Linked DNA regions of Homo sapiens. The protein of the gene in region 3 purifies or fractionates together with the protein of the main gene of each other region. This does not show direct contact. Each region holds a gene or a part of one and is shown on either strand. Other genes may lie near its edges.

Evidence for each region.
Region 1: the proteins of CEP15 (region 3) and NCS1 purify together in Homo sapiens (affinity purification with mass spectrometry; one large-scale study listed by BioGRID and IntAct). This does not show direct contact.
Region 2: the proteins of CEP15 (region 3) and SERPINA12 purify together in Homo sapiens (affinity purification with mass spectrometry; one large-scale study listed by BioGRID and IntAct). This does not show direct contact.

What each region holds. Positions count from the first base shown.
Region 1 is NC_000009.12:130,217,246-130,221,096, forward strand, and holds part of NCS1 (neuronal calcium sensor 1), read left to right. Parts: intron 1-586; coding exon 587-725; intron 726-2,479; coding exon 2,480-2,558; intron 2,559-3,851. UniProt on the Homo sapiens protein: Neuronal calcium sensor, regulator of G protein-coupled receptor phosphorylation in a calcium dependent manner. Directly regulates GRK1 (RHOK), but not GRK2 to GRK5. Can substitute for calmodulin. Stimulates PI4KB kinase activity.
Region 2 is NC_000014.9:94,489,625-94,492,469, reverse strand, and holds part of SERPINA12 (serpin A12 precursor), read left to right. Parts: intron 1-2,702; coding exon 2,703-2,845. UniProt on the Homo sapiens protein: Adipokine that modulates insulin action by specifically inhibiting its target protease KLK7 in white adipose tissues.
Region 3 is NC_000003.12:62,332,522-62,336,021, forward strand, and holds part of CEP15 (centrosomal protein 15), read left to right. Parts: intron 1-733; coding exon 734-868; 3' UTR 869-3,500. UniProt on the Homo sapiens protein: May play a role in ciliary assembly.

The DNA.
Region 1 (3,851 bases), on a different chromosome or scaffold from region 3:
CTGGGACTGCAGGGTGGACAAGTCCAGTTGGAACAGCCAGGATCCCCCCATGCTGTTTACCCAGTTCCCTGGGAACAGAGACTGAGGGGCAGGGTGTGGGCATGTGGGAGGAGCCACCTGCTGGCTCCATATGGTGGTCTACCCACCAGCACCAGCAGCAGCCCACCCAGCCTGATGCCAGGAGGGGCTCAGCAGAGAAGGTGGGGAGGTGGGAGGGTCTTGTGCAGGCATGCGGCTTTGGGGAGGCCATTCATGTGACTCTTGTTTTAGCCCCCTTGGGTGGAGCACAGGGCTGGGTGGCCAAGTGCTCACTCTGTGTGCAGTATCTGGGTTAATTCCTATGTCAGTTCGTAACCCCCTTATGCAGACGAGGCTAGGAGAGGTGAAGTCTGTATCCAAGGTCACACTGCTAGTGAGAGGCAGAGGTGGGACTGCGCCTGTGCCTATCAAGTCCATGGCCCCATGGGGCACCATCTCTTTGAACAAGGAGCCACAGCTTTCCTGGGCCCCGGGCAGGCGATGTTGGTGGTGGGTGGGTGATGTTGGCGTCTCCTTTACCCTCTCTGGCCCGGTCTGCTGCCTCCAGGTACAAAGGCTTCATCAAGGACTGCCCCAGTGGGCAGCTGGATGCGGCAGGCTTCCAGAAGATCTACAAGCAATTCTTCCCGTTCGGAGACCCCACCAAGTTTGCCACATTTGTTTTCAACGTCTTTGATGAAAACAAGGTGAGCTGGGGATTGATGGGGCCTGCGGCAGCTGGCTCAGCTCCTGTGGGTACCCGCAGCGTCTCCACACCCACTCTCTCCTGCCGATGTTCCCTTCTAGAGAAGGAACACACACACGAGTGCATACTGACATGCACAGATACATAGTCGCACATAAATGCATGCACATGTACACATGCAGACACACAATAAACACAGATGCATCCAAATGCATGCACATGTGTGCACACATATGTACACCCACACATGTACTGACATGCACATCCAAGCTCTCACACAGACGTGTATGTGCACATGCAGGCGAATACCATGCACACATGTGGGCACACATACATGGAGATGCAGCCACACACGTGAACATACATGTATATTCATACAGTGCACAGAAATGCACACATATGCACACAATGCATGGACTTGCAGGTGCACACACGTGTACACACAGAGAGACATATACACATATGCATATGTATACAGTGCACAACACACATGCATGTATACACATGTACACCCTGACACTTCTCTTACAAGCATAAAATGCAAATACCTCCCATGATAATAACAGGATTAATAATAATAACCAATATTTCCTGAACATTTACTATGTTTAAGCTCTTTACATGGATTTTTTTTTTTTTTGAGACAGAGTCTTGCTCTGTTGCCGAGGCTGGAGTGCAGTGGTGCAGTCTCAATTCACTGCAACCTCTGCCTCCCAGATTCAAGCAATTCCCCTGCCTCAGCCTCCTGAGAAGCTGGGATTACAGGCGCCGTCACCACACCTGGCTAATTTTTGTATTTTTAGTAGAGATGGGGTTTCACCGTATTGCCCAGGCTGGTCTTGAACTCCTGACCTCAGATGATCCACCCACCTTGGTCTCCCAAAGTGCTGGGATTTCAGGTGTAAGCCCCCTTGCCCGGCCATACATGGATTATTTTTAATGAGGCCTTACAAGCACCTGGGAGCTGGGTATTTTAATACCCATTTTGTAGGTCAGGAAACTGAGGCTCTGAGAATCGTAGGCTATAGGATCTTTTGTTCCTGGCGTTTTCCACTGAGCATCATGTTTTCAAGACTTACCATGTGGTAGCTTGTGTCACCTCCGGGCAGTGGCTGCACGGATAGCTGTTGGGTTATCTGCGATGACCCTGATTCTGTCCTGCAGTAGCATTTGAGGGTGGATTTACTGCCACTTGTCTCTGTACCCCCTGCTGCTGGCACCGTGGAGGTTTCTATTCTATCCCATCCCCAGCTTCTCCCAGGTGCCCCCAGGCTGGGAGTCACATGCCTGACCCTGGGAAGGGCTCTTCCCTTCTTGGGCCTCGGTTTCTTCATTTGCAAATAAGAGGTGGAATTAAACAACCTGCAGCGGCCTTTCCTCTGCAAAAGCCCATGAGCCCACAGCTCTAGGCCGAGGGGCTTCCGGGCTGTTGCTGAGAGGAGCTCAGGCATTGGTGCTTCTGGCACCTTCTCCCATCAAGAGTGGAGTAAGCCTCTCCGTTCAGCCTCAGTCCTTCTTCCTGTGCCTCCCTCCTGGCCTCTCCCACTTCTAACCCCCCACACAGTCCCCCAGCCTCTGCTCCCCACCCTCTCCTTGCCTCTCGCCCCCCATTCCTTCGAGCCTGCCCTCTCCACCTGAGTGTCCATTGGCCACAGTGTCTGGAGCCTGCGACTGCCCCTCGCCCGTCCCGAGGTTCAGCCTGACCCGGTGGCCTGGCCGGCACTGACTGAGGCAATCCCCTCTCTCTCCTGTCAGGACGGGCGAATTGAGTTCTCCGAGTTCATCCAGGCGCTGTCGGTGACCTCACGGGGAACCCTGGATGAGAAGCTACGGTGTAAGTCCTGCCCCCTTGGCCCTGTGTGGCAGCAGCTGGAGGGCCCAGGTCAGAGGGAGGCAGCCCTCGGCCCTCACCAGGCAGGGGTGCCAGACACCCACTGCAGTGACCACAGATGGCGTCCCAGCTGTGTCTGCAGAGGGCAGGCCTGGGCCCTGGGCAGGTGGCCCTCACACGGCCACGTAACTAGGCCAGGCTGACTGTCCAGGGTTCAGAGAGCAGCGCAGACATCTGTGCTTCCAGGTGGGAGGGTTTCCTGGAGGCACCGGCAGCAGGAAGGAGCTCGCTGAGGCAGGTGGACAGGGAGGGCTGGGGGCAGAGGCTGGCAGGAGCCTTGGCTGCACTCGGGCAGGTGCAGACTTGGGCCGCAGGAGGGTCGGTGGGGACCCAAGACCCAGGTTCAGTGCCGGACCCACCTCTTTCATAGCCATTGCTTTGATTCTTGCTTTCAGTCATTCACTTACTCACTCATTCATTGACCAAATAACGACTGAATGCAGCCACGTGTTGGTACCAGGGATCCACTGGGGGATAAGATAGATGGGTCCCTGCTCTCAGGGCGATCAGTCTAGAGTGGCAGCAGGATTTAAAAAAAAACCTCAGGAAACTGCAGGCAAGGAGGAGAGAGGGAGTTGTGAGCAGGAGAGGACCTGCCTGGTAGGCGCAGAGCTGGGGATGAGAGGAGCTGGGGATGAGAGGAGCTGGGGAGGGGGCGTTAAGGGCTCCAGCCAGGGGGCCCGCGTGTGCGAGGCCCAGTGGAGGGAGGCTGAGAGGGAGTTGGGAGGGGAAGCTGTGCAGGCCCCTGGCGGCATTAGGAGGAATGCAGGGTGCGTGGAGGGGAGGGAAGATGGAAACCAGCTGGCCAGAACTCCCTGCTCAGTAAGACTTTCACACTTCAGTCCATCGGCAGCAAGAAGACCCTGCAGTTTCTTTTTCTTTTTCTTTCTTTCTTTTTTTTTTTTTTAAGAAATAAAAGAGAACTTTATTTATGCAAAAGCTCCTCCTCTCAATGCACTATTTTATTTTCTAATGTTGACTGTAGCAGGCCACACCATAATTGTGGGAGCAGAGTGGACTGTGGGGAGGAGGTGGGGGCTGGAGTTGGGGGAAGGAGAGGGGTGCTCCTCTGGGTAACATCCCAGGCCCCGGGCTCTCCCACGCACTCAGCTCCAGCCACTGATACCTCGGCCCTGGCAGCCCAATGCCCCATCCCTTTATTTTATTTGTTTATTTATTTATAGACAGAGTCTCGCTCTGTTGCTCAGGCTGGAGTGCAGTGGCACAATCTCGGCC
Region 2 (2,845 bases), on a different chromosome or scaffold from region 3:
ATGCAAGAAGACAAAGCAGGTGTCTGCCTTCTGTGCAGGCAGGCCTGTATGGCTTGTGCTGGCCTGCAGGAAATCTCAATGCTATTATTTTTCCCAACATAAAAGCTTCTCTTGACCTCTGCTTTCCCCCAGTTATTCCTCCATTTCGTCACTCCCCCTTTGCAGGTGAATACCATGAAGCAGTTGCCTCTGTTCACAGCCCCTAGTTCCTCTCATCCTCTCCTAAATCCACTCCAGTCCAGCTTCTGCACCCACTTCTCACAGAAAGCTCCCTTCCCAGGGTCCCAAGGGTGTCTGTGTTGCAGAGTGCAGTCAGTCTCAGGCCTCGCTCTTCGGCTGGTTTCTGTCCCCACCTCCTTAAGGCACTCTTCATTTGGCTTCCAGCTCTCCACTCTCACATCACCTCCCACCTCTCCCCTCCTCAATCTCCTTTGCTGGAGACCCCTCTCCTCCTCCAGGTCTCAGAGGTGAGTGTCTCAGGGCTCAGTTCCCAGCCTTCTTTTCTGTCTATACTTACCCCTGAGTGAGCTCACAGGCTAAGAGCTTTAAACACCATCTCTATTACCACGACTGCCATGCTTCCATCCCCAGCCCCTGTTCTCCCCCAAATTCCAGAGTCGTGGATCTTTCTGTTTACCCAGAATGTCCCCAGGATGTGTAATTGGAGCTTAGTGTCAACACATCCAGAATGACTTCCTGATCTGTCCCCAGAGAACCTCCCCAAGCCTGCCCATCTCAATCAGTGGTGACTCCATCTTTTTAGTTGCTCAAGCCAAAAACCTTGGAGTCACCCTGACCACCCTCAAATGCCTCATTCAGTCTGTCAGGAAACTCCTTTAGCCTACAGCAAACCACATCTGGAATTTGGTATCTTTCCGCCGTCTCTGTGGCTCCCAACATGTGACTACCACACTAGCTTCCAAATGGTCTCCCAGCATCAATTTTTGCCCATCCCCACTACACACACCACCACCACCAAGAGTATATTCTTAACAGAGGCAACAGAATGATCCTTTTAAATCCTAAGCAAGACTATGTCACTCCTCTGTTCAAAACCCGACAGTGACTCCCCATTTTATTCAGGAAAAAAAACCCCAATTTGTCTAACTCTCTTGCCTGCCTCAAGGTTTGCTCAAACTTTGGACCAATCCTCGATTCCTGCAAGTCAATCTATTTATTTTTTTCCATAGCACTTACTGCCTTCTGCATACCGCTAGTACATGTATGTAGGCTTAAGTGGTACTTTTTGTTGTGTTGATTCTATCACCTGTCTTCCCTGCTAGAACACACAGTCAGGGGCAGGGATCTTTGCCTGCTCTGTTCATAGATGCATCTCCAGCACCTAGAACAGCACCTGGTATACAGTAGAGATTTAATAAATGTTTGTTGAGTGAATGAATGAGTGGAAAGGTAAATTTGGGAGTCGTTGGGCCTGTTGATGATATTCAAAGCTGTGAGACTGAATGACATGTATGGGGATGGAGTGAAGGTGGAAAAGAGAAGGGGACCAAGGTCTGAGCCTGGAAGCAGCAGTGTCACCGGTAGAGATGGGAGGGGTGGAGCCCGACAGGGGCAGGAGTGGTGGGGAAGGAGGAGAAGCCTCAAGGGGTGGACCTGGAATGCTTCACCTTGGAGAAAGGGATTACCATCACGTGCGGCTCACTGAGAGCTGGCTCTGGGACGTGGGGCTGGTTGTCAACGGTGACTCTGGAAAGAGTTGCTTCCATAAAAAGTTGAGGTCAAAGAGCCGACTGGAGTGGACTGAGGCAATTGTGGGAGGGAGTGGAGATAGCTGCTATAAAAGGAAGAAAAGAAATGAGCTGGAAGCTGGAGAGGCTATTCAGGGCCAAGAGAGATCTCTTGGTGTTAGTTTTTGAGGATAGGGTCACTCTAGCATGAGGCCTCCTCCAGAGGAGGATCAAAGGGGCACTGTTTAAGGATGATGCAGGAGAGAGAGGACACATAGGCAGGAATGAGATCCTTGGGTAGGTGGGAAAATAGGGTGCAAGGCCAGGTGAACGGGAATCCAGGGTCTGCAGGTACCTCAGGAGAGCCTGGGCCCCAGGCTCCGGGCAGGAGGCTGATCGCGGTTCAGCCACAGAGGATGTGAAGCTGCTAGTTGGAGGGCAGGAGGATGGGCACCTGCTACGCACCAACTGTCTGCTGAGTGCCTTGTCTGCATTTGCCTTAGCACCCCTAGTGTCCCGCAGGAGCGACGGTGATCATTTTCCTTCTCACACAAGTGACTTAGAGAGGGAAGGTCACAGAGCTCATGAGAGGCAGAGTGGATTTGAACTCAGTTCTGTCTACCTCCAGATTCTGGGTGCCTTGTTCCCTCCAGTGTCAGGTCTTCTGGGGTCAGGATGGGCTCAGGGCTCAGGCATGGCAGCGACTACAGTGTGGACATCATCAGTGACTGTGGCTGAAGGGGCTCTGAGACGGGGGAACTTGAGACTTGAGAACACTCCCTGTAGAGGGCTCTGGGGCAGGTGTGCTGGGAGGCAGGGACACGGTTCAGAGAGCTTATGGTGTTTTGAAACCAGGGTCCCAGGGTTAAGGAGCCCCTCCTCATTCTGTGGATGGAGAGAGATTGGAGACCTTTGGGGCTGGGAGGACACATGTTTCATTGGTCATGTATCCTGAGGCTTGCCCTGCAACACAACAGGACTTGACCACTCACCCTTGTCGTGTCAATTCCCCAGGGTCGTAGACGTGTCTGTACCCAGACTCCACATGACGGGCACCTTCGACCTGAAGAAGACTCTCTCCTACATAGGTGTCTCCAAAATCTTTGAGGAACATGGTGATCTCACCAAGATCGCCCCTCATCGCAGCCTGAAAGTGG
Region 3 (3,500 bases):
CCTCCCTAGGGCAGTCACCCAAGAAACCAAAGCTAGACACAACACAGCAATGTTTCATGAGCTTCTAAAGCCTATAGACTTCTACAGTCAGACCAATAATACAGCATCTCAACTTCCAAGCTATTTGTATTAAAAATGGTTAAATTATATTGACATTTTGTCATCACAAAAATGGGGAAAAATTATAGTGGATATATATTTCCTACACAATTAAGGGTCCAATATCTCTAATTCCTGTACTATAACACACTAGTTGTATTTCAGTTCCTGATCTCATCCCAGGTCAAATCTTTTGATGTTAATCCTGAAGCATGATTTATGTTTGATAATTTCATTGTAATAATTTCAGTATGGGGTAATCATTTGGTATGGGATTTGGAATATTAAACAAAAACATTTAATGATTATATCACCATAAATGATACTATTAGCAATAATCATGAAGTTGGCCACAAGAGGGCGTGTAAAATCACAATAAAATTCTAAAACCTGTAATTCTGCCAGGCTCTGGTTTTACTGAGAAATTTGAAAATTAACACTAGTAAGTAGCCAGATTTTTTTCTAAAATTAACATAAAATATTCTGTAGAGGAAATGCATTCTACATATATGTGTGTGTGTGTGTGTGTGTATACACGCATACACACTCTTAAGTGAATAAACATTTAGACTATTATGAAGAGCCAAGTTCAATTGCTTGATATGCTTTTTTACTTTTGGATTTTTTTTTCCAGACTCGTTACTGGGCATCAGTAGAAGAATATATTCCCAAATGGGAACAGTTTCTTTTAGGAAGAGCACCATATCCTTTTGCTGTTGAAAATCAAAATGAAGCAGAAAATACCATTCAAAATGAGGCACAGCGATAACTTCTTCACATGCTATTTCAAAAAGCCTGTTTAATAAAGCTGAATGTTAAGGTGTATGTAGGTTATTGCAGGAACTTTAGGAATTAAATATGTTCATATTCTTCGATTATCTCCTAAGTGACAGTGAAGATATGAGAATTTACTGGCAAGTCACATGTTATCACCTACTACTATTTCAAGGTCATGAATTTGCTTTCTACCAAACCCATAGATGTGTTAAACACGAATATTAAAAGGTGGACTCTTTATTAATTAAATTATTGTCAGTGTTGTGAGTGTGTTGCTTTAAAAAAAAAAAAATTTACAATCATTCTCCTCTAAGCAGGTATCTTGGTTCTGGTTTTAAGTTAAGTTTTTTAGAATCCTTACTTTTTAGGGACAAGGTATAGGATCAACATGGTTCTTTTTTTTTTTTAAACCATTATTGTTTCTTTTAACAAATTAAAAGACAATGACACCTAAACTGCTCTAGCAAAATAACTTATGAGAAAATAAATTCATAGGATTTTGTCCCTCACAGATAGCCAAAGCTCTGCAAGTTCTGGAGACAGAAAGAACTGAACTATAAAGCAGTCAATAAGTAGCCAGTTTCAGGAAGACTCAGACTTGGTTTTGAAAAAGGATGCCTTTTAGAGCTGGGAAAGGTTATTGGATTTTGACTTGGTTATTTAAAGATTGCCAACCTTGTGAATGCAAATAACCCCACTCTTGTCTTTTCATCTTTAAACTTCCCCTTCCCGCTTCCTTCTAATTTCATTATTCCTGAAAAAACTGTCAGTCAGAAAGCGTTGGGTCACAACCCTAAACAGCTTTGAGATTCCTCAGTCCACCACTGCTTGAGCACTTAAAAAAAAAAAAGAAAAAAAAAATATGTATATATAACTTTCCAGCTATAGAGGCAGCCTCTGCTAGTAAAGGGTACCTATGCTATATTACAATGAAATGTTTTAAATTTCAAACTGGTTTATGTTTTTAAAAGAAGACAATAGGAAAAGCTAAATACACAGCAACAACAACAACTATATTGAAACGTCCGTTGTGCCGATAAGTTCCTTTAAACTACCATCTTGGAAATATCCTGTTGAGTGGGTGTTGGTGTGGGTAACAATAATGTTGTTTTCATAATATGTGCTGGCAGATTAGCACACTTCTCTACAGTGTTAACAGTTGTAATTAAGGAATAAACAGCACAGGGTGTCAGTCCGATGACAATTTCATCTATAGTGTCACAATACAAAATGTCACAAAATATTAGAACTGTTATATAACTATAAAAAGTATCAGCTTAAAAGCTAAAAGCCTTTGAAAAAAGAAGACAGAGGAAGGAAGAAAAAAGAAAACTGGCATAGCAACCAGAACAATTTTATACCTTCTCAAGAATGTTCTGTCATGAAAATAAATTGATAATTTTTTTCTGTTACATTACAGTTTGGTTTCTAGCCATCCAGTTGATTTAGCAGGAGAATGCAGGTTTTTTTAGCAGCTTTGAATTGGTAAACAGATTTAGATGTAGTAGAAAGGAACATGAGGAAGTTGTTTTTTTTTTTAACATCCAATCTTTCCCAGCATATGCACATAAGAAGGTGAATGAAGCAATGTGAAACTTACTTCTCTTTAGTCAAGTGAAAAAAAGGCTAAACATTTGTTAGATGGTAAAATATTGTGTCAAGCGAGTAGGCAAATTCCAAAATTACACAGTGGTTGATACATTAACATCCTCAAATATTTGAGCATGCACTTCCTTTGAGATCTGTAAATTAAATCACCAGTGGGTTAGATAAAAATACAAAACAAATGGCAATCTAACCATCTCAGAAAAGGTTCAGGTTTTTTTCTCCCTAAAACTGAGAACTTGCTAAATAATTTTTGAAAAGCATAAACGTAATACACCCTGGGTTACGATCGAGGGCAGAAGGGAAGGCATTTCCAAGGCTCCTGCTGTAGTGTTTTTCCCATTTTTGTTAATACCTCAAAAACTCCCAGAGATGACTTTATTCCTGGCCCCTGCAGAGCTCCCCTCCCCACCCCCACCTTGTAGACTGTAACAGATTGCACCACATGGTGTCTGTTTAAAAAAAAAAAAAAAATTCCCATAGGGACCTGGATATCCCATTAATGGGCTTTATGTTCCTCATGGCAAATTAGCTTTACACAGGAATTTCCAAACATTGTTTTCTGTTAAGAAGGGAGGAATACCATATATAATGTATATTTTTTCTACAATTAGTAGGAATCAGACAAGGAAAAGGAAATGTCATCTATTCATACCTTTCTCTCCAAATTCAGTGTTCTTTCCATATGCTCCATTGTACTCCACCACTCTTCTCCATGAAAACTATGAATTTATGGTTTTTTTTTAGAAAAATGGAGTTTTCAAAATGAAAGTCAAATAATTTTTTCCAAAGCCGTTTGTGGACTGTTGCAAATGCATAAATATTCAAAGCTCATTTTCTGCAGAAACACTTCTGGTATATGAAATTATTAAACTGTAGAATGCTAAAGATCAGAAGAAGCTACAGTTTTTCTTTAAACTTGAAAAAAAATTAAGAAGTATTAAGGAAAAAGCTTAATACTCTGGAAACCAGACATCTGGTCTTTCTCATGCGTAGGGAGCAGTGTGAATGAAAGTGAA